Linked DNA regions of Homo sapiens: all the other regions are linked to region 2. The links come from fine-mapping of genetic effects on gene expression. A gene starts in region 2. Each other region holds a variant in brackets. All regions are shown on one strand. Distances are between the middles of the regions.

Region 1 (6,975 bases), 120 kb before region 2:
GTAGATTGGAAGACTCAATATAGTACAGATGAAAATTCTTCCTAATTGATCTACAGGTTTAATGCAATTCTTTTTTTTTTTTTTTTTTTTTTTGAGATAGGGTCTTGCTCTGTCACCCCCAGGCTGGAGTGCAGTGGCACGACCATGGCTCACTGCGACCTCGACCTTCTGGGCTCAAGTAATCCTCCCACCTCAGCCTCCTGAGTAGCTGGGACTACAGGCTCTTGCCACTATGCCCGGCTAATTTTTTGTATTTTTTTGTAGAGACAAGGTTTTACCATGTTGCCCAGGATGGTCTCAGACTCCTGGCCACAAACAATCCTCCTGCCTCAGCCTTCCAAAGTGCTGTGATTACAGCCGTGAGCCACCATGCCTAGCTGGTTTAATGCAATTCTTACCCAAATCTCAGCAAGATTTTTTTGTAGACATAGACAAGCTTATTTTAAAATTTATATGGAAAGGGAAAGACACTAGAATAGCCAAAACGTATGAAAAAGAAGAAAATTCATGATGTCAGGGCTTACCATATAGCGACGGTAATAAAGACAGTGTGGTATTGGTAGAGGAGCAGACACATAGATTAATGAAATAGAACAGAGATCCCAGAAATAGACCTACACAAACATTTGATTAATAATTAAATAAATAATAAAATAATATTTGATGAAGGAGCAAAAGTGGTTTAGAGGAGAAATGACAGCCTTTTCAACAAATGCTCCTGGAACAACTGGACATTCATAAGCCAAATAAATAAATAAATAAATAAACCTCACACCTTATACAAAAAATTAACTCAAAATGGATCATAGACTTAATGTAAAACATAAGCTATAAAACTTCTAGAAAAATAGGAGGAAAACTGTGAGATCTAGGACTAATCAAAGGTATTTTTAGACTTGACACCAAAGCTTGATGAATAAAAAGAAAATTTGATATACTGGACCTCACCAACATTAAAAGCTATTGCTCTGAAAAGACTATGTTAAAAGGATGAACAAACTAATTATAGACCAGGAGAAAATATTTGTAAATCACATATCCAGCAAAGGACTTTTATCTAAAATATATAAAGAATGCTCAAAACTTGATATTTAATGGCCAAAAGACTTGACACAACATTTCATCAAGGAAAATATACATATGGCAAAAAGCACATGACAAGATGCTCAGCATCGTTAGCCATTGGTAAAATGCAAATTAAATCACACAATAAGATATCACCGCACACCTGTTAGAACAGTCAAAATAAAAAATACTGACAGTACCTATAATAGTTTCATAGTGTTACTGTAGTAAATCACCACAAATTTCGTGGCTTAAAACACCACAGATGTATTATCTTACAGTTCTGGAGGTCAGAAGTCCAAAATGAGTTTAATGAGGCTTGTGGCTATCATCCTTCAAAGCCAGCAATGGCTGCTTGGTTGAGTCTTTTTCACTTCACATCACTCTTTTGCCTCCTTCTTCCACATTTAAAGGATTATTGTGATTATATTGGGTCTACCTAGATAATCCAGAATAATATTTTCTTAAGGTCAACTAATTAGCACTCTTAATTCCATCTGCAACCAAAATTCTCCCTTGCATAACTTATTTCATAGGTCTGGAGGATTAGGATGTGGACTTTTGTGGGAGCCATTTTTCTGCCTATCACAATACCAAATGTGAGCAAGGATGCAGAGAAACTGGAGCTCACATATTGCTGGTTGGAATGTAAAATGGCAGAGGCACTCTGAAAAAGTTTGACAATTTTCTATAAAGTTAAACATATACTTAAACATATGACCCAGTAATTGCACTCCTGGGTATTTATCCTAAAGAAATGAAATTTTATGTTCAATTTTAAAACTCTATATATGAATATTCACAGCAGTTTTATTTGTAATAGACAAAAATTGGAAACTACTCAAATGTCCTTCAATGGGTAGGCCATTAAACAAATTGTGGTTCATCCATGTACTATGGCATATTATTCAAAAATTAAAAGAAACTATGATATACACAGCATCTTGAATGGACCTCAAGGAAATTATGGTGAATGAAAAAGCCAATCTCAAAAAGATAAACATTGCATAATTCCATTTATATAACATTCATGAAACAATGTAATTATAGCCAAGGAGATCAGATTAGTGGTTTCCAGGGGTTGGGCATGAGGGGCCGTGCCTATAAAGAGGCAGCACGAGGGAACCTTTTGGCTACCAAATAGTTCTGTATCTTGATTGTGGTAGCAGTTTTATAAAATTACATGTGATGAAATTGCATACAGCTATAAGCACACATGCGCACACACAAGTGCATGTAGAATTGGTGGAATCAGAATAAGCTCTGTAAATGGTACTGATGTCAATCTTCTGGTTTTGATGCTGTGCTGTGGCTTCATAAAATGTTTCCATTGGGGTAGTCTGAGTGAAGGGTGCATGAAGTATTTCTTCACAACTTCCGGTGACTCTATAATTGTTTCAAAATAAGTGGTGACGATTGCTTCTCGGCCTTTTGGCTAAGATCAAGTGCAAAATACATGGTGACATCAGCAGGATGGCCAACTGGAAGTTCCTAGCACTTGTCCCCTTCACAAAGAAAGCCAGAATAGCAACATTTTAATGAAACAAAACAATCAAACAAACAAAAAACAGGGAGAGCACTGGAGTGCATCAGAGAAGTAACAGAAACCCTGGTGAGCACAGAAACTTGGAATAGTCAAATAAAGAAAGGAAGAAATGCTGGGCCTTACCCCATCCCCAAACCAGGATCATCTGGGAACCAGGAGGAACTTCTTCCTACAGCAAGAAGGTAAGCAAGAGGATCCCAGCAACCCCCACCAACACCTCGAACACATACAGACCTCATCAGTAGGGTGCCCTGCAGTCTTTACAAGGACTAAGCCCAGCTGAGGGAGCTGCCTCCAGTCCACATACCTATGCTCCCTCCAGAGGAGACGCTGACACTGTGCCTCGCCCCCTGTGGCCTGTGTAGCTACTGTGCTACACCATCTTGGAATTGCAACTACAGCTAGAGTGTCTTACTCGGCGGGTGAGTAGCCACAACTCCTCTTCATCCCTGAAGCTAAGTCATCACTGAACTACCCCAGTCTAGTAGCCCAACATCCACAAGCTGAGCTGCAAACAGCTGTTATACTCTTTCCCATGGGATCAAGGGTGGAGCTACTCTACCTACCCCTCCCTACCCCAGGCCAGAGCTGAAGCACTACCCTCTCTCCTGGAAAAACAGTATCTTGGCCATTCAGAGCAATCACACCTTCCTGGTGCCTAAGTTGAAGCAGCACCCTGCATCCCAGGAAATGGTGCCTGGTCCTCCCAGAATAGTCATATCCCCCAGGCCTGAGCTGAACTAGCATACCATCCCCTGGGCAATCAGTGCCCTGGCTAAGCTGAGCAGTTGTACATCCCAGGGCTGAGCTTATGTAGTACCCCGGGTCCCAGAGAAACAGAGCAGTGGCTGAACTGAGACACTCGCACCCCCCACAGGCCATAATACTCAAGTACTTCCCTGGAGCTGGACTAGCCCCCTAGAGTTTGAGCTGCTGAGACACCCCTCTCCCTGGGGAGTGGAGTCACTGCTGTTTTGTTTCCTGTCCCCCACCACCCCAAGGCCCAAATGACAGCTGTGCTCTGGCATTCTGGGGTCACAGAATCTAGGATACTGCTAAGCCCCACCATCCCAGGGTCTAGAGTCACCACTACACGATGCCTCATCCTTTGGGACCTGAGTTGCCAATGAGCTCTATTGGCCCAGGTTCCTGAATTGCAGCCATATTCTGCTCCTCAGGCTCAAATCTGCAAAGCAGCCCTTCTTCC[C/A]AGGAGTCAGGCCAGTGCTATGCTTTGTCCCCAGGGGTAGAATCACAGCTATAAACCAGCCCCTGGGCCCAAGCAGCTAGGGGTTGCCACAGAGTCACAGATATTGGCTCTGTGGGCAACCTACACCAAACCCTGCCACATACCACAAGGCACAGGTGCTGCAGTAGGTTCACAGATGCTGAGCCTAGGATCCCAGCCCCATGGCCACTCTGAGCACCTGCAGTTGGAATCAGCACCACTGTAGCTGCTTGTAGGCTGTGTCAGACCTGATGGCAAAGGAGAACCCCTCAGACAGGTCCCCCCACTGTGGGGAAAAAATGAGAATAGGAGGACCTCAAAAGCCCTTGACACTGAGGACATTAACATCCTACACTGCTGCCACAAACTTCTACAGCCTAGGTCACTGAAGTGTCCATAGTTACTGCTGGCATTGAATGAAGCTGAAGAAGACTTCATTCAACAAAGAAAACTATATCACTGCATCTATCTGGAAGCAGAGTCACCACACCCTCTCCAGCAAGCCCACTAAAACCCAAATGCAAGTGAAAGTCTTTCTCTATGAGTCACTCTACAAAGTTTGGAAGTGGCTATTGTCCTAACAGATGCACAAACATCAGTGCAGGAGCACAAGAAACATGAAAAAGCAAGGAAATATGACACCGCCAAAGGTACATAATAACTCTCTAGCTACAGACCCCAATAAAAAAGAAATCAATTAATTGCCAAATTCAAAATAATGATCTTAAGGAAACTCAACAAAATACAAGAAAATATAGATAGACAATTCAACAAAATGAGGAAACCAATTTACAATATGAATGAGAAATTCAACAAAGAGATAGAAATCATAAAAAAAAAGAACCAAATGGAAACCCTACAACTAAAGAATTCAGTGAATGAAATTCAAAATACAGTAGAGAGCTTCAACAGCAGACTTGATCAAGCAGAAGAAAGAATCACTGAACTTAAAGACAGGTCATTTGAAAGTCCCCAGTCAGAGGGGGACAATAAAGAAATAAGAATGAAGAAAGCCTGTAAGACTTATGGAATACCATTAAGCAAACACATATTTATATTATGGAAATTTCAGAAGGAGAAGAGAAGGGAAAAGGTATAGAAAACCTAATTAATGAAATAATAGTTGAGAATTTCTCAATTCTGGGGGAGATATGAACATCCAGATCCAGGAAGCTCAAATATTCCCAAATAGATTGAACCCAAAAAGATACTTCTCAAGGGATATTATAGTCAAACTGTCAAGAGTCAAAGACAAAGAGAGAATTCTAAAAACAGTAAAAGAAAAGCACCAAGTCACATATAGAGGAATCCCCATTAGATAAATAGGTGATTTCTCTGCAGAAAACTTAGAGGCCAGGAGAGAATAAAATGTTATATTCAAAGTGCTGAAAGTAAAAAAAATTGCCAGCCAGGAATATTAACCCAGAAAAGCTACCCTTTAGAAATGAGGGAGAAATAAAGTATTTCCCAGATAAGTAAAAACAAAGAATTCACCAGTAAACCAGCCTTGCAAGAAATGCTCAGGAGTTCTACATCTGGATGTAAAAAGGCAATAACTACTATCATGAAAACATGCAAAAGTATAAAACTCATTGGTAGAGCAGATATACAAAGGAGAAAGACAAAAAAATCAAACCTTACCACTACAGAAAACCACCAAACCACAATGAAACAGAGTTAAGAGAAAAAATAAAGGAACAAAGGATATGCAAAACAACCACAAAACAACTAACAAAATGATAGAAGTCCTCTCCTATCAATAATAAACCTTGAATGTAAACAATTAAATTTCCTACTTAAAAGATATAGACCGGATGAATAGGTTTTTTAAGTGAGTCAATTATATGTTGCCAACAAGAAACTCACTTCATCTGTAAAGACATAAATAGACTGAAAGTGAAGGGATGAAAGAAAAAAAACAAACATTCTATGCAAATGGAAACCTAATGTGAGCAGGAATAGCTATACTTGTATCAGATTAAACAGACTTTGAGTCAAAAACTGTAAAAAGTGACAAAGAAGGTCACTATATAATGATTAAGGGATCAATTCAGCAAGAAGATATAACAATTGTTAAGTATATACACACTCAACACCAGAACACCCAGATATATAAAGCAAATATTAGATCTAAAGGGAGAGATATATTCCAATATAATAATAGTTGGGGATTTCAACACCCTACTGTCAGCACTGGACAGATCATCTAGACAGAAAATCAACAAACACTGGATTTAAACTGCACTTTAGACCAAATGAACCTCACACTTACAGAACATTTATTCCAACTGTTGCAGAATATGCATTCTTTTCATCAGCACATGGAACAGTCTTCACGACAGACTACATGTTAGGTCACAAAACAAGTCTCAACCATTTTAAAAGAACTGAAATTATATCAAGTATCTCTTCTGACCACTATAAAATAAAACTAGAAATCAATAATAATAGGAAGTTTCAAAATTGTACAAATACATGGAAATTAAACAACAGGCTCCTGAATGACCAATGGATCAATGAAGAAATTAAGAATGAAATTAAAAATGTTCTTGAAACAAATGAAAATAGAAATACAACATACCAAAACCTGTGGGACACAGCAAAAGCAGTATTAAGAGGCAAGCTTATACAATAAATGTCTACATCAAAAAAGTAGAAAGATTTCAAAAAACAACCTATTGATGCATCTCAAGGAACTAGAAAAGCAAGAACAAACCAAACCCCAAATTAGTCCAAGAAAAGAAACAATAAATGTCAGAGCAGAAATCACTGAAATGGAGACTAAGAAAAATAAAAGATCAACAAAATAAAAATTTGTTTTTTGAAAAGATAAACAAAATTGGCAAACCATTAGCTAGACAAATCAAAGGAAAAAAAGGACCCAAATAAATAAAATTAGAAATAAAAAAGAGACATTGCAACTGATACCACAGAAATACAAAGGATCATCAGAGACTATTACAAACAGCTGCATGCCAACAAATTAGAAAACCTAGCAGAAATGGATAAATTCCTGGACACATACAACCTACTGATATTGACCCAAGATGAAATAGAAAACCTGAATAAACCAATTATGAGCAGTGAGATTGAATCTGTAATAAAAAGTCTCCCATGGCCGGGCGCGGTGGTTCACGCC
Region 2 (6,925 bases):
TCAGGAGATCACCTACTACCACGAAGAAATAATGTTATGCTGGTACCAAGTCACTCAGTCTCATTCAGTGTTGTCCCACCCCACAATAAAACCCTTGTCAATACTGAAATCACCTTTACAAACCTCCTGTCAAATGAGCTTTTGTGGATAAAAGAACAGGTTCCAGCCAGGTGCAGTAGCTCATGTCTGTAATCCCAGCACTTTGGGAGGCTGAGGCGGGTGATCACCTGAGGTCAGGAGTTCAAGACCAGCCTGGCCAACACGGTGAAACCCCATTTCTACTACTAAAAATACAAAAATTCTCTAGGCATGGTGGTACATGCCTGTAAACCCAGCTACTCGGGAGGCTGAGGCAGGAGAATCACTTGAACCTGGGAGGAGGAGGTGCAGTGAGCCAAGATTGCGCCACTGCACTCCAGCCTGGACAACAGAATGAGACTCCATCTCAAAAATAAAAAATAAAAAAATAAAAAAAAGAACAGGTTCCCAGGATTCACCCTGATCTACCCAACCAAAATATCCAGGAATATGTGCTTTTAAAAGTTCCTTGGCCAGGCGCAGTGGCTCACACCTGTAATCCTAGCACTTTAGGAGGCCGAGGCAGGCAGAACACAAGGTCAGGAGTTTGAGACCAGTCTCGCCAACATGATGAAACCCCATCTCTACTAAAAATACAAAAATCAGCCGGGCGTGGTGGCGCACACCTGCAGTCCCAGCTACTCGAGAGGCTGAGGCAGGAGAATTGCTTGAACCCAGGAGGCGGAGGTTGCAGTGAGCTGAGATCATGCCACTGCACTCCAGCCTGGGCGACAGAGTGAGACTCCATCTCCAGGAAAAAAAAAAAAAAAAAAAGAAAGAAAAAAGTTCCTTAAGCGATGCTGATGGTTGAGAACCACTTCCAGAAAACATGACACCTCTCTTAAGCATCTGCTGGAGACTGTTGTCCCCTTGGTTTCTGTGAAACTTATTGCTCTCCACCAAGATTATTCCCCAAGGCCTGTTCTTCACCTTTGGCTCTTCTCTCTCCCTCGGACCACTCCAGTTGCTCTAGCTCCCAAAAGATCTAGTCCAGTAATTCCAATAGCCTATGGGCAGGGACTCCTACCTGCAACTTCAAGTTCAACCTGTCTAAAACTGAACTTTTTCCCCTAAACCCAGGTGACAGTTCAGTTAACGCATTATCACTATTCCAGTCACCCAAGTTGAAACCTTGGATCATCTTTGACCCATCCCTCCCCTTCCTCCATCCCTGCTCCCCATCTCCACTACTTCATTAGACTGGTCACCAAATCCTAACCTATGGAAGTGTCTTGTAAGAGGTGTTACCAGGTAAATGAGTTACCAGGTTAATGAGTGCTCTGTCAGTTCATCTGTGAAACAAAGACCAACCTCTCAGGTTATATTAAGGGTTAAATAAGATAACGACCCCAGAATATAAAACATCTGATACTATACATATTACTCAGTATATACTCCTTTCTCCTCCACATCTTTCTGCAAACTACAATCAATCTAGACAAAAGTGTTCTCATCCTACTATGGAATGGTTAAACAACAGAACAGGAAGATTTGGAATCCACAAAATGAAATTTTTAGTTTCAGCTCTACGGTGAACTGGCTGTGTGTTCTTGGTCAAATCACTTAACCTTGCTGAATTGGTACGTAAACTTGAAACTTATCTGTTTCACAGAGACACTGAAGATCAAATGGCAAGACTTCATTAACCTGCCATAAGATCCTGCTAAAGGCCACCTCCAACAGCTCTCTCATCACTAAGATGGCACTTATGCCACTGACAAGGACGAGGAATAGCCTTAAGTTCTGAAATTGAATCCTAATGGAACCCCATTCCTCGTTTGGCCCTATTACCCTGGTAGCTACCAAGACATTCAAAGCTTTGGCTTCTGCTGAGGAAAGTAACATCTTACCAACCTGCAGCATGCATTAAGACTTCAGGAGGAAACATCTGAAGCATTTTATAAACTGTAACATCTAGAGAACTGAGGGAGGTATCATCAGCATTTCTATCTTCTTGGGTTTCTACAAATAGGCTTAATACTTGGCTGAATAGTTTCTTTTAATCTCATCAGAAGTCCCACCTCTCTTATAAAAACTTCACTTCTCAACCATCATTTCTATTTCCTTTCTTTACAATGGGCTCCATCAAATAATTGCCCTTAAAAAGTTTTCTATTACTTTCTGGGTTTTCTCTCTTTAACTGTGTCACAAGGAGAGAGAAACCATTACTTAAACACCCGTATCACCCTCACCTGCGGCAACTAAGAGTGTAAACTACATTCAGCAAAAGGTTGCTTACCACTACATTCAAAAGTGCCCAGTCAACTTCACTGAATGAGTATTGACAGCGTTTCCAACATACAATAAACTTAACCTGGAGGGTACGGAATTAAGCTCAAATAGAAATTTTAATAAGCACTACATTGACAGTCTTTGACCTGGGAAGTCACATTTCAAACAAGCGACCACACCCATTGATCAACACAATGCCTCCGTCATCCCCGCCAGCTCAAGTCTTTGGTAGTTCTGGGGCATGCACGTTTCTGTTGCTGTAAATGTCCTTCCTTCTGTCTGGCCTGCATGGATTTCGCTCCCTGACTAGCGGCCCCCAGCACCGTGAGGGGTACGCGCTGGCGGGTGCTGAGTAGGGCTCTTAACAGTCGGCTTACTACTTCTGAAACCTCAGGACGTCCGGAGCGAACACCTCAGCGGAATAAGCTGACATCCAATCCGCGCTTCAAATTACTGAAGCCATTCTCACAAGCTCAACCCCAGGACACCAGGAAAAGGAGGAAACAGGCTGGGAGAGCTTGGAGGAGCGGGCGCCAGGAGTCAGGGCAGGCCGGGGGCGGCGGCTCCCCAGACCGCAGGCCCGCCCGCCTCACCTGCAGCACCAAGGCCTGCGCGGCCCCGGGCGGGAAGCCCATGCGGTCCGATGGGTGGCGCAGCAAGCGATAGAAGTCTGTCTTGCGGTAGAGGAAGCCAAAGAGAACGCGCAGGAAATCCTGGACGTTGCCCACGTGCTGCAGGATGCCCAAAAGGGCCTGGTCATACAGCTCGGCCGCCCCTGTCTCCATGTCGCCTCCCGCCCTAGGTACGCTTCACACACACAGCGCCGCCTCAGACCTGCCGACTGGCCACTTCCGGCGTCCGCAGCCAACGGCTCCGCCGGACGGCGCGGCTGCGGAACTTCCGGTCCGTGCTCGTTCGGCCCCCGCGGCCCCGGGCTGTTTTCCCCAGACCCAGCTGCCCCACGGGCTTTGCCTTGAGGTGGTCTTAGACAAAAGAGCCCGACAAGGGCAGCAAGGAGGTTCCTACGCGGAAGGAAGCCCGTGGCTTCTGCTGCGCTGCGAGGGCTTGACCGCCATGTTTGAAGCGGGCGGAAAAAAATTATGGGGCGTGCAGTGTCACGTGACTGCTCGGATTTTTGTCACGTTGTCTGTGGATCCTTTCTTATTTCTGTGTTGAATTCCAGCCTGGGTATTTGGAACCTATGGTTAAAGATGGGGCTAGGGTAAGCTTTTTGTTAGTGAGCCAGAGACGGGAAAATGCGTATATGTGGGATGTATGGGTTTCTTATTAACAGATCTGTGAGTTAAACTCAGGGCGTTGCATCAGAAGAAAGTCAAGATGACGAAGAAAATAAAGAGTGCATTCAACGTATATTAAGTGGAAAGAGCTAGATTCAGAATAGAGAATCCGTATGCCATCGTTGTGAAATATGTACGTGTATGTGTGTGTATAGTATGTATATACATATATACGTCATATATACATATGTTGTTAGTGTCTGTCAAAGTATAATCTTAAAAAAGTAAAAAGCATGACACTCATACAAATATATCATGAACACATATCCAAGATTTCTTCAGCAAATTAACAATGATATGGTAAAGCTGGTTCAAAAGCATTTTGAGGAAGTGGAGATTAAACATTTTGACAAAGCATTAGAGTAAGATTAGGTTGGATACAAAGCTGGCTGGTGTTCTACAAGATGATAAAACCATAGATTATCATTTCTAGTGTATAGAAATGATTTGCACCTCTTCTAGATTAAAACATGCAAGTTAACATGTCTTCATAGTGTATAAGCTTTAATGAATTGTAAATAAAATCCAACTCAGGTAAATTGCCCTAGAACAGTGGTTCTGAAACTCTTGATTTAGGGACCATTAATCCTCTTAAAATTTGTTGAACATTCCAAAGAACATTTGTTGATATGGGTTATGCTTATCAATATTTACCACATTAGAAATTAAAACATAAAATGTTTAAATATTTATTTAATCATTTTTAAATGACCATAAAACACATTACATGTTAACATACTTTTATGCAAAAAATAATGTTCTTCAAAGCAATAAAAGTTCAGTGAGAGGAGTAACATAGTTTTACATTTTTGCAAATCTCTTTAATGAGCCTACTAGAAGACAGCAAGATTTGGCCGGCACAGTAGCTCATGCTTGTAATCCCAGCACTTTGGGAGGCCGAGGCGGGAGGATCAGGAGTTCGAGACCAGCCTGGCCAACACAGTGAAACCCTGTCTCTACTAAAAATACGAAAATTAGCTAGGCGTGATGGCAGGTGCCTGTAATCCCAGCTCCTCTGGAGGCTGAGGCAGGAGAATCGCTTGAACCCGGGAGGCAGAGGTTGCAGTGAGCCGAGATCACACCACTGCATTCCAGCCTGGGCGACAGAGCTAGACTCCGTCTCCACAAAAAAAAAGAAGACCACAAGATTCTCACATCTGCATTCACTGCAACATAATTTGCATTATGTTGTTTTCATTGAAGTATATGAAAACATGCAACCTCACACAGACAGTTGCAAATGAGAGGAATATTTTGTCTTTTCAAATAAATGTGGCTATTTGTCTTTAAAATGACATCAAAATTCTTCTACAAGCGATAGTTTCTATTTTTTTTATTTTTAAGAGGCAGGGTCTCCCTCTGTCACCCAGGCTGGAATGTAACGATGTGATCATAACTAACTGTAGCCTTGAACTCTTGAACTCAAGCAATCCTCCTGCCTCAGCCTTCTGAGTAGCTGGAACTACAAGCACATGCCACTGTGCCTGGCTAATTTTTAAATTATTTTTATAGAGACGAGGTTGGGCCTACATTGTTCAGGCTGGTCTGAAACTCATGGGCTCAAGCGATCCTCCCCTCTCAGCCTCCCAAAGTGCTGGAATTATAGGTGTGAGCCACTGCACCCAGCCCTGTAACTGGTAGTTTCTTAAAGGTTACTTGCCATATGGAATCTAAAACTGTATCTATAGACTTTTCATACTCTGTTACATTAATATCGATTGGTCTTTCACTTTGAATGGATCGTTAATAAATGCATGATTTTATACCATCATGTATTAATTAGTCATTTGAAAATGTTGGTCCACTGTGTTATGCAGCTCTTCCAAATGTTCACTCGTTTTATGCAACGAGCATATCTTGCCCCCAGATCTTGGTTTCTAATATCATTTCATTATATAATATCAAAAAATAACATTTGTTAGAATTACCACTAAACTCATCAGAGAAGTCTGTCTTTATTGACAAGCACTCAAGCTCATGGAAGCGGGATATGGGTTTTTTGAATTCTAATTTTAGCTTAAAAACTTGAACTTTATTATTGGAAGTAGATACAATCAATTATTTTCCTTGAAGAGACAGGCTCACTTCATTCTGTCATTCAAGTAAAAATGATGCTCTGTGACTTGTTCAATTGGCAACTCAATCACACAAGTGCTTTGCATCAGTGCAACCATTTTGCTTCAGTATGAGGCAGACATGTCTTATGTGTACTTCTCTTTTAATCATGCACTATTAAAAAGACTTGTTCTCAAGTGGAGAACTTTTAATAAAACAACTTTTAATAAAATTAATAATTAAATGCTATCAGGAGCATTCTTAAGTGAAACTGAACATTTTTAACCTGTAAGTGTAAGGCAGTGCATACTAGTCGAGTTTGGTGCCGTTATGGACTGAATGTGCCTGCCCCCCACCAGATTCATATGTTGAAGCCCCAGTCCTCAATGGGACTATATTTGGAGTCACATTGGTGGTTAGAAGGGCCTTTAAAAGATACTTAAAGGTTAAATGAGGTTATAAGGGTGGGACCTTAACCCAATGGAACTGGTATCCTCATAAGAGGAGAAGGAGACACTAGAGATCTCACTCTGCACACATGCAGAAGAAAGGCCATGTGAGGACACAGTGAGATTGCTTCAAGCTAGGAAGAGAATTCTCACCAGATACCAACACCTTGGTCTTGGATTTCTGGCCTCCAAGACTGTGAGAGAATAAACATGTGTTGTTTAAGCCACCCAGTCTATGGTACTTTGTGACAGCAGGAAGCTAGGACAATGGCCTGCCTTGATTCCTGCTGAGACACTTGCAGTTTTACCTGCCATTGCTTTTGCACCATCATTGCAAATGTCAACATGGTAAAAAAGCAAATAACATCATAGTATTGTTATTTTTACCTTGGAGGCCCCCCAGGGCCACATACTACACTCTGAGAATCACTGCCCTAGAGAATTAATGAATCTCGGGTGAGCCTGTTATATAATTCCTCAGTATAACTGGAAGCACATGCAGTCATCTTCTTGCTATATTCAAAGTTTTGAATAATTTTCTTTAGCACCTAAAGGAAGAAATGGAACAGACGCTGCATCTGGAGAAGGGAAATTGAGGGAAACACTATAAAACAGGAGAAAAACTTACTTTTGTATTTGATACCATATACATGCATTACCTATTCAAAAAGTAAATAAAATATCTTTTTTTTTTTTTTGAAACAGAGTCTCGCTCTGTCGCCCAGGCTGGGGTGTAGTGGCACAGTCTCAGCTCGGCTCACTGCAAGCTCCGCCTCCTGGGTTCACGCCATTCTCCCGCCTCAGCCTCCCGAG
Region 3 (6,975 bases), 150 kb before region 2:
ATTCATTCCGTTATTCTATTTGTCTGTACTTGACCAAGATCACACTGGATGATTCCTGTAGTTTTACAGTGAGTCTAGATGCATGGTAGTATAAGTCCTCCAGCTTTGATGTTGCTCCTCCTCCCCTTCTCATCCTTGTCCTCTTCCTCCTCCTCTACCTCCTCTTCCTTCTCCTTCTTCAAATTTATCTTACCTATTCTTGGTTCTTTGCAATTTCAAGTAGATTTTAGAATCAGTATGTCATTTACACACACACACACACACACGCACACAAGCGCGTGCACATACACACACCATCAAAACGCTTCTAGGATTTGGGGGTGGGGTGTGTGTGCACTAAAACTATAGCTCAGATTCCAGAGAATCAAAATTATTTAATATTGCATCTTGCAATCCACAAATATGGGATATATCCTTCCACTTATTTAGATGTACTTATCTCAGTAAATAATTTCCTGTGTAAACGTTTTGCATGTCTTTTGTTAGATTTACTACTAGGTATTTGTTGGTTTTGAACACTATTATAAATGATTTTTTTTTTTTTTTGAGATAGAGTCTCGTTCTGTCGCCCAGGCTGAAGTGCAGTGGCGCGATCTCGGCTCACTGCAACCTCTGCCTCCCGGATTCAAGCGATTCTCCTGCCTCAGCCTCCCAAGTAGCTGGGATTACAGGTGCCCACCACCATGCCTGGCTAATTTTTGTATTTTTAGTAGAGACGGGATTTCACCATGTTGGCCAGGCTGGTTTCAAACTCCTGACCTCAGGTGTTCCACCCACCTCGGCCTCCCAAAGTGCTGGGATTATAGGCATGAGCCACCATGCCCAGCTAATAAATGGTAATTTTTATATCTTTTTTTATTGTTTGTTGCTGATACATATAAGCACAATTTTAAAAATATCGACATTTGTACTAGTCAGCTCAGGCTACCATAACAAAATACCACAGACAGGGTGGCTTAAACAGCAGAGATTAGTGTTCCCACAGTTCTGGAGGCTGGAAGTTCAGGATCAGTGTGCCTGCATGGTTGGGTTCTGGTGAGGGCCCTCTTCCTGGCTTGCAGAGGGCTGTCATCTGGCTACCCATTGTCTGTGTATGGGGACAGAGAGATCTTTCTTCCTCTTCTTAGAAGGCCACCAATCCTATCAGATTAGGATGGCACCCATATGACCTCGTTTAACCTCAATTACTTCCTAAAGGCCCCACTCCAAACTGAATCACACTGGGGGTTAAGGCTTCAACACAGGAATTTTGGGAGGACACAATTCCATCCACAGCAACATTATAGCCAACAACCTTGCCAATTTTGCATATTAATTCTAAGAAGTTGCCTGAAATTCTTTTGCATAGTTGATGCACACAATGATGTCATCTGTAAATAATGACTTTTCTTTCTTCCTCTCCTCCCTTTAGGTCTGCTCGCCTTGCCTTTTGTGGTTGCTGGGCCCTCCAGGACAATGTCGAGTAGTATTGTGGGTATCCTCAGCTCATGCCAAATCTCAGGGGGAAGGTTTTAAATATTTCATCATTAAGAAGGTTTTTTATAGATACTTTTTTAACAGAATAAGAAAGCTCCCTTCTATTCCTAGGACATGATCTGAATAATTCTAATCTTTTGAAAATGTGTTGAAACTTATGGCTCAACCATATGATCAATTCTTGTAATGTTCCATATGCATCAGAAAAGCGTGCGTGCGCTGTCATGATTGGGTATGGCATTCTACAGCTGTCAAATATGTCAAGTTTGTTCATCACGTTAGGCAGGTATTCTACTTGCTGAGTTTTTTGTCTGCTGTTCTCTTATTTATTATAAGAGGAGGGTTAAAGTCTTCCACTGTGATTGCCAATTTTTCCTTCTCCTTTTAGCATTGTCAGTTTTTACTTTATATAATATGAAGTTATGTGCAGTTCATATAGATTTTTACATTGTATATTTTTGGTGAGTCCACCTTATCACTTTATGTTCCCCCTCCTCTACAGTTGTCCTATTTTCTTAATGTCTATTTCATTTAGTGATAGTACAGCTGCATTAACTTTCTTTTGATTAGTGCTTTCATGGTGTGCAGAAAAAGGTTAACTCATCAGGCTTGGTTGGTCCAGGGCCTGCACATGCCAAGAATGGACTTCCCCTTGGTAGGTTCCAGAGAGGCAACCCTTGGAATATCCTGCTTGAAAGCTTGTTTTTGTTTGCCTGAGACCTTGGGCCATGCTGTATCCATTAAGTCAGTGTTATGGACTGAATTTTGTTCCCCCAAAACTCATAGGTTGAAACCCTAACTCCCAGCACCTTAGAATGTGACTGTATGTGGGGATAGGGCCATTAAAGAGATAATTAATCATGCCTGTAACCCCGGCACTTTGGGAGGCCGAGGCAGGTGGATCACCTGAGATCAAGAGTTCGAGACAAGCCTGACCAACAGGTGAAACCCCATCTCTACTAAAAATACAAAAATTAGCTGGGTGTGGTGGCGGGCACCTGTAATCCCAGCTACTCTGGAAGCTGAGGCAGGAGAATTGCTTGAACCTGAGAGGTGGAGGTTGCAATGAGCCAAGATTGCCCCATTAAACTCCAGCCTGGGAGACAGAGCAAGACTCCATCTCAAAAAAAAAAAAAAAATGGTAATTAAGTTAAATGAGGCCCTAGGGTGAGCCTTAATCCAATCTGACAGATGTCCTTTCTAAGAGAGGAGAGTAGGACACACAGACACAAAGAGCAAAGACCACATGCAGACAAAGCAAGAAGACGGCCACCTGCAACCCAAGAGAGAGGCCTCAGGAGGAACCAACCCTGCTGACACTTGGGTCTTGGACTTCCAGCCTCCAGAACTGTGAGAAAATAAATTCCTGTTGTTTAAGCCCCTCAGTCTCTGGCATTTTGTTGTGGCAGTCCTATAAACCAGTAAAACCAGATAGCTTATGCTAACAATGTGGCTTTTGTGATGTGTGTCTGAGGTCCTGGGCTATGCTGTATCACTTTGGCCTCTTAGGGGCTGAGTAGCTAAGGTCAGTCATGCAGACAATTCCTGCCTATGTGACTGACACTCCGTAAAAACTCTGGACATCGAGGCTCAAATGAGCCTCCTCGATTGGCAGTACTTAGTATGTGATTGCACATAGTTGCTGGGAGAATTAAGCATACTCCAAGCAGCTTCACTAGGAGGGGACATTTGGATGCTTGTGCTCACTTTCCCCTGGACTTTGCTCATGTGCCTTTTCCATTAGGTGATTTTAATCTGTAACCTCCTGCTTTAAGAAACTGTGTGGGCCAGGTGCAGTGGCTCATGCCTGTAATCTCAGCACTGTGAGAGGCCCAGATGGGCAGATCACAAAGACAGGAGTTCGAGACCAGCCTGGCCAATATAGTGAAACTCTGTCTCTGCTAAAAATACAAAAATTAGCCAGGCGTAGTGGCACATGCCTGTAGTCCCAGCTACTTGGGAGGCTGAGGCAGAAGAAGTGCTTGAACCCGGGAGGCGGAGGTTGCAGTGATCCGAGATCGCGCCACTGCACTCCAGCCTGGGCGACAGAGTGAGACTCCGCCTCAAAAAAAAAAAAAAAAAGAAAAACTGTGC[G/T]ATCATGAGTATAACAGCTCTTGTGAGGCCAGTGAGTCCTTCCAGTGAATCATCAAGTCAGAAAGTGGCCCCACAACATACACATGGTTATATTTTTTCATTCCTTTACCTTCAACTTTTCTGCATCCTTATACTTAAGATGTGTCTCTTGTAGCAACATATAGTTTAATTTTTTTTGGTTTTATTTTGTTTTCATTCAGTCTATCTTAGTCTTTTACTTGGGGTGTTTAGTCCATTTACATGTAAATGTATTTCCTGATATATTTTAGTTTATACCTACTATGTGAATTTTTTTCTTTGTCCCACCTGTTTTATATTCCTTTTCCTCTTTTTTGCCTTTCTTTGGATTAAACATTTTTTATTATTCCATTCTCCATACCTATCATTCTATTAGTTATGCATTTATTTACTATTATGTTATTACTTACTATTGACATCATTTTATTATTATTTCAGTGGTTACCCTTGATGACAAGATTCCAGAAGAACTCCCTGTACACATTAAAACATTTTTTTCCCTAAAAAATCTTCATTTTACCTTTATTTTTGAAGAATATTTTGGCTATAGAATTCTGTAGAATTCCAGGTTGGCAGTGATTTTTTCCAGCAGTTTAAAAATGTTATTTCTTTCCTTCTGACTCCAGTAATTTGTTTTGAAAAATCTGTCATCAGTCTGATTGTTACTCCTGTGGTTACCCTATTTTCCTCTGGCTTCTTTTAACATTTAAGATTGCCTTTGTATTTATCCTGCTTGGGGTTACTGAGTATCTTGAGTTTGTGGGTTGAAGGCATTAATTTGTTTCTAAAATGATCATACTCTAATATTGCTTCTGCTCCATCACCTTTCTTTTCTCCTTCTGGGTCTTCAGTTGTACATATATTAGAACTTTTCAACATGTTCCACATATCTCTTATACTCTTTTCTCTATTTTTTCATCTTTTAAAAATTCTTTGTGTATCAGTCTTGATATTTTCTGTTGTCCTGTCTTCTACTAATCCTCTTCTACTTCTACTAATCCTACCAGTCTACTTCCATTAGTCCTGTCTCCTGTTGTATTCCATCCATTCTTACATCTGTTGTATTCTAAATATCAGCTACTGTGTTTTCAACTCTGAGATTTATATATTTTTTCTTTAGTGAAATTGTCTATCTTGTTACCTGTTTTCTCTAAAATATTAATAGCTGTTTTAAAGTCTGTGTCTGATACCTCTAATATCTGTATCACCTGGGAATTTTGCCCTTTTTTTTTCTTGGTATGCTTATTACTTTTTAATTGAATGTTGGACATAGTGTGCAACAATTTATAGAAGCTCTGGATTCCATTAACTTCCTCCAGAGACCATTCACCTTATCCTTGGGGCAGCTACAGTGTGAGCAGACTACCTTCATCCAAAGCAGCATGAGGCAGGATTGCAGTCCTTTTACATCTCATTCTCTCTTTGCTTCATGCCCACCCCTAGGGTGTTGCCCTCCTGAGACCCCAGCTAGGGTCCTGAACTCCCATTTTTGTCTCTTCATAACCATGAGATCATAGAAAAACTTCATCTTTTCACTGGCTTTCTTATTAGCTCCTCACCATGTGTATTTAATACATGGGCAAATGCTTCAAGGGAAACCTCTGAGTTTGGGGCTCCTGGCCTCTTGGGTGCTGGCTATCCTGTCAGCTCTATAATTAATTTTTTATTCTCTTCTCCATGAAATTGCTGAAAGATCTGCTGGCTTCTCTGCCTCTTAAAGTAATAGTCCTATGCTCAGATTCCTAGCCTCTCTAAGAACTGGTCATCACCTGGAGGGGTAAATGATGTGCAGAATATCAGCTCATCTCTCTCCAATTCTCTTCTATTTGGAAACTTGGTTCCTTAAGCCCTGGTTATCTGCAGTTGTCCAGTGCCTTCAAACCAGTTTTTTTAATCTGGATTTTCTAGTTGTTCTCAGTGGGGTCAGTGATCTGCTCCAAATACTCCATTATAGCTGGAAATGGAAACTCGAGGAAGGGTAATTTTATAGATGGCACCAAATTGAATGTGTTTCTAGACAGAGTAAAGTGAACACATGAAAATAATTATGACAGCTCCCCCATATTGAGCTCTTACTATGTGCCAGACTTTGTGCTATGTGACTACATATATTATGTCATTTGATTTTTACAGCAAGCTTTTACAGCAAGGCTAGGTACTATATCTATTCCCATTTTACAGATGTGGAAACTGAGGCTTAAAGAGGCTAATTAACTTGTCCAATCAATCTTTTTATCCCCTGGAGGCAAAATGCATAGAAAAAATTTTGACTTTTAAAAAAATTGTGTATACATATGTGTGTGTGTATACATACAGAGAAGTGTGTGTGTGTATATATATATAAAAAACACGATTTGTGATTTTAACAAATTTTAAGTGTACAATTCAGCGGCATTAAGTACATTCACACAATGTTGTGCAATCATCACCACCAACTATTTCCAAAACTTCTTCATTACCCCAGAGATTCTATAGCCATTAAGTAATAACTCCCCTATAATCTCCTATAATCTATAGCCATTAAGTAATAACTCCCCTTTCTTTCTGTTTCTATGAACTGGCCTATTCTAGATATTTCAGGTAAGTGGAATCAGACATTATTTGTCCTTTTGTGTCTGGCTTATTTCTCTTAGCACAATGTTTTCAAGGTTCATCCATATTGTAGCATGTATCAGAACTTTGTGCCTTGTTAAGACTGAATGATATTCCATTGTCTGTGTAAATATCACATTTTGTTTATTCCTCAATCAGCTGGTTAACATTGGGGTTCTTTCCTACTTTTGGCTATTGCAAATAATGCTGCAGTGAACAATGGCATACGAGTATATGTTTGAATCCTGTTTTCAATTCTTTGGGGGATATACCTAGGAGTGGTAATTCTATGTTTAACCTCTGAGGAACCACCAAACTGTTTTCCATAGCAGCTGCGCCATTTTACATTCCCAGCAGTGACGTATGAGGTCTCCAGTTTCTCCATGGCCTCCTCAATACTTACATTCTTTTCTTTCCTAAGTACAGCCATTCTACTATGTGTGAGGTGTATCTCATTGTGGTTTTTGCACTTCCTATTAACTAATGATACAAAGTATATTTTTATGTGCTTATTGGAAATTTGTATATCTACTTTAGAGAAATGTCTATTCGAGTCCTTTGCCCATATTTTGATTGGATTGTTTGTCTTTTTGTTGTTGAGTTGTAGGAGTCCCCTTCTGTATTCTGGATAACCTTTCTTAGATATATGATTTATAAATATTTTCTTCTACTCTGTAGGTGGTATTTTCACTTTCTTGATAATGTCTTTTGATGCACTGAAGTTTTTAACTTTAATAAAGTCCATTTATTTTTTCTTTTGTTGTTTGTGCTTTGGTGTCATATCTAAGAAGCCAT

Alleles and levels. Positions count from the first base shown, and alleles are read on the strand shown. Sizes are in standard deviations (SD) of each study's normalised expression. Not every link is listed here.
For the expression in breast of the gene that starts at base 3,153 in region 2, allele T in region 3 goes with a higher level than allele G (moderate effect, 0.54 SD a copy in GTEx).

Evidence for each region. PIP is the estimated chance that this variant, and not a neighbour inherited with it, causes the effect. A credible set is the group of variants that fine-mapping cannot tell apart.
Region 1: its variant is the best candidate, but not a certain one, in a credible set for the expression of NUDCD3 in whole blood (TOPMed, PIP 0.57).
Region 3: its variant is the best candidate, but not a certain one, in a credible set for the expression of NUDCD3 in breast (GTEx, PIP 0.59).

Annotation. Positions count from the first base shown.
Region 1 is chr7:44,364,716-44,371,690 of GRCh38, forward strand. No RefSeq gene overlaps it. Among named protein-coding and RNA genes, the nearest start is that of CAMK2B, 43 kb to the left of the region's middle. The variant C/A (reference allele first, on the strand shown) is at 3,819.
Region 2 is chr7:44,487,506-44,494,430 of GRCh38, forward strand. It overlaps NUDCD3 (NudC domain containing 3), which reads right to left and starts at 3,153. Exons shown (of 6, transcript NM_015332.4): 1 at 2,904-3,153. The coding sequence starts at 3,095. RefSeq lists silencers at 2,735-2,904, 4,970-5,096.
Region 3 is chr7:44,340,244-44,347,218 of GRCh38, forward strand. No RefSeq gene overlaps it. Among named protein-coding and RNA genes, the nearest start is that of CAMK2B, 18 kb to the left of the region's middle. The variant G/T (reference allele first, on the strand shown) is at 3,571.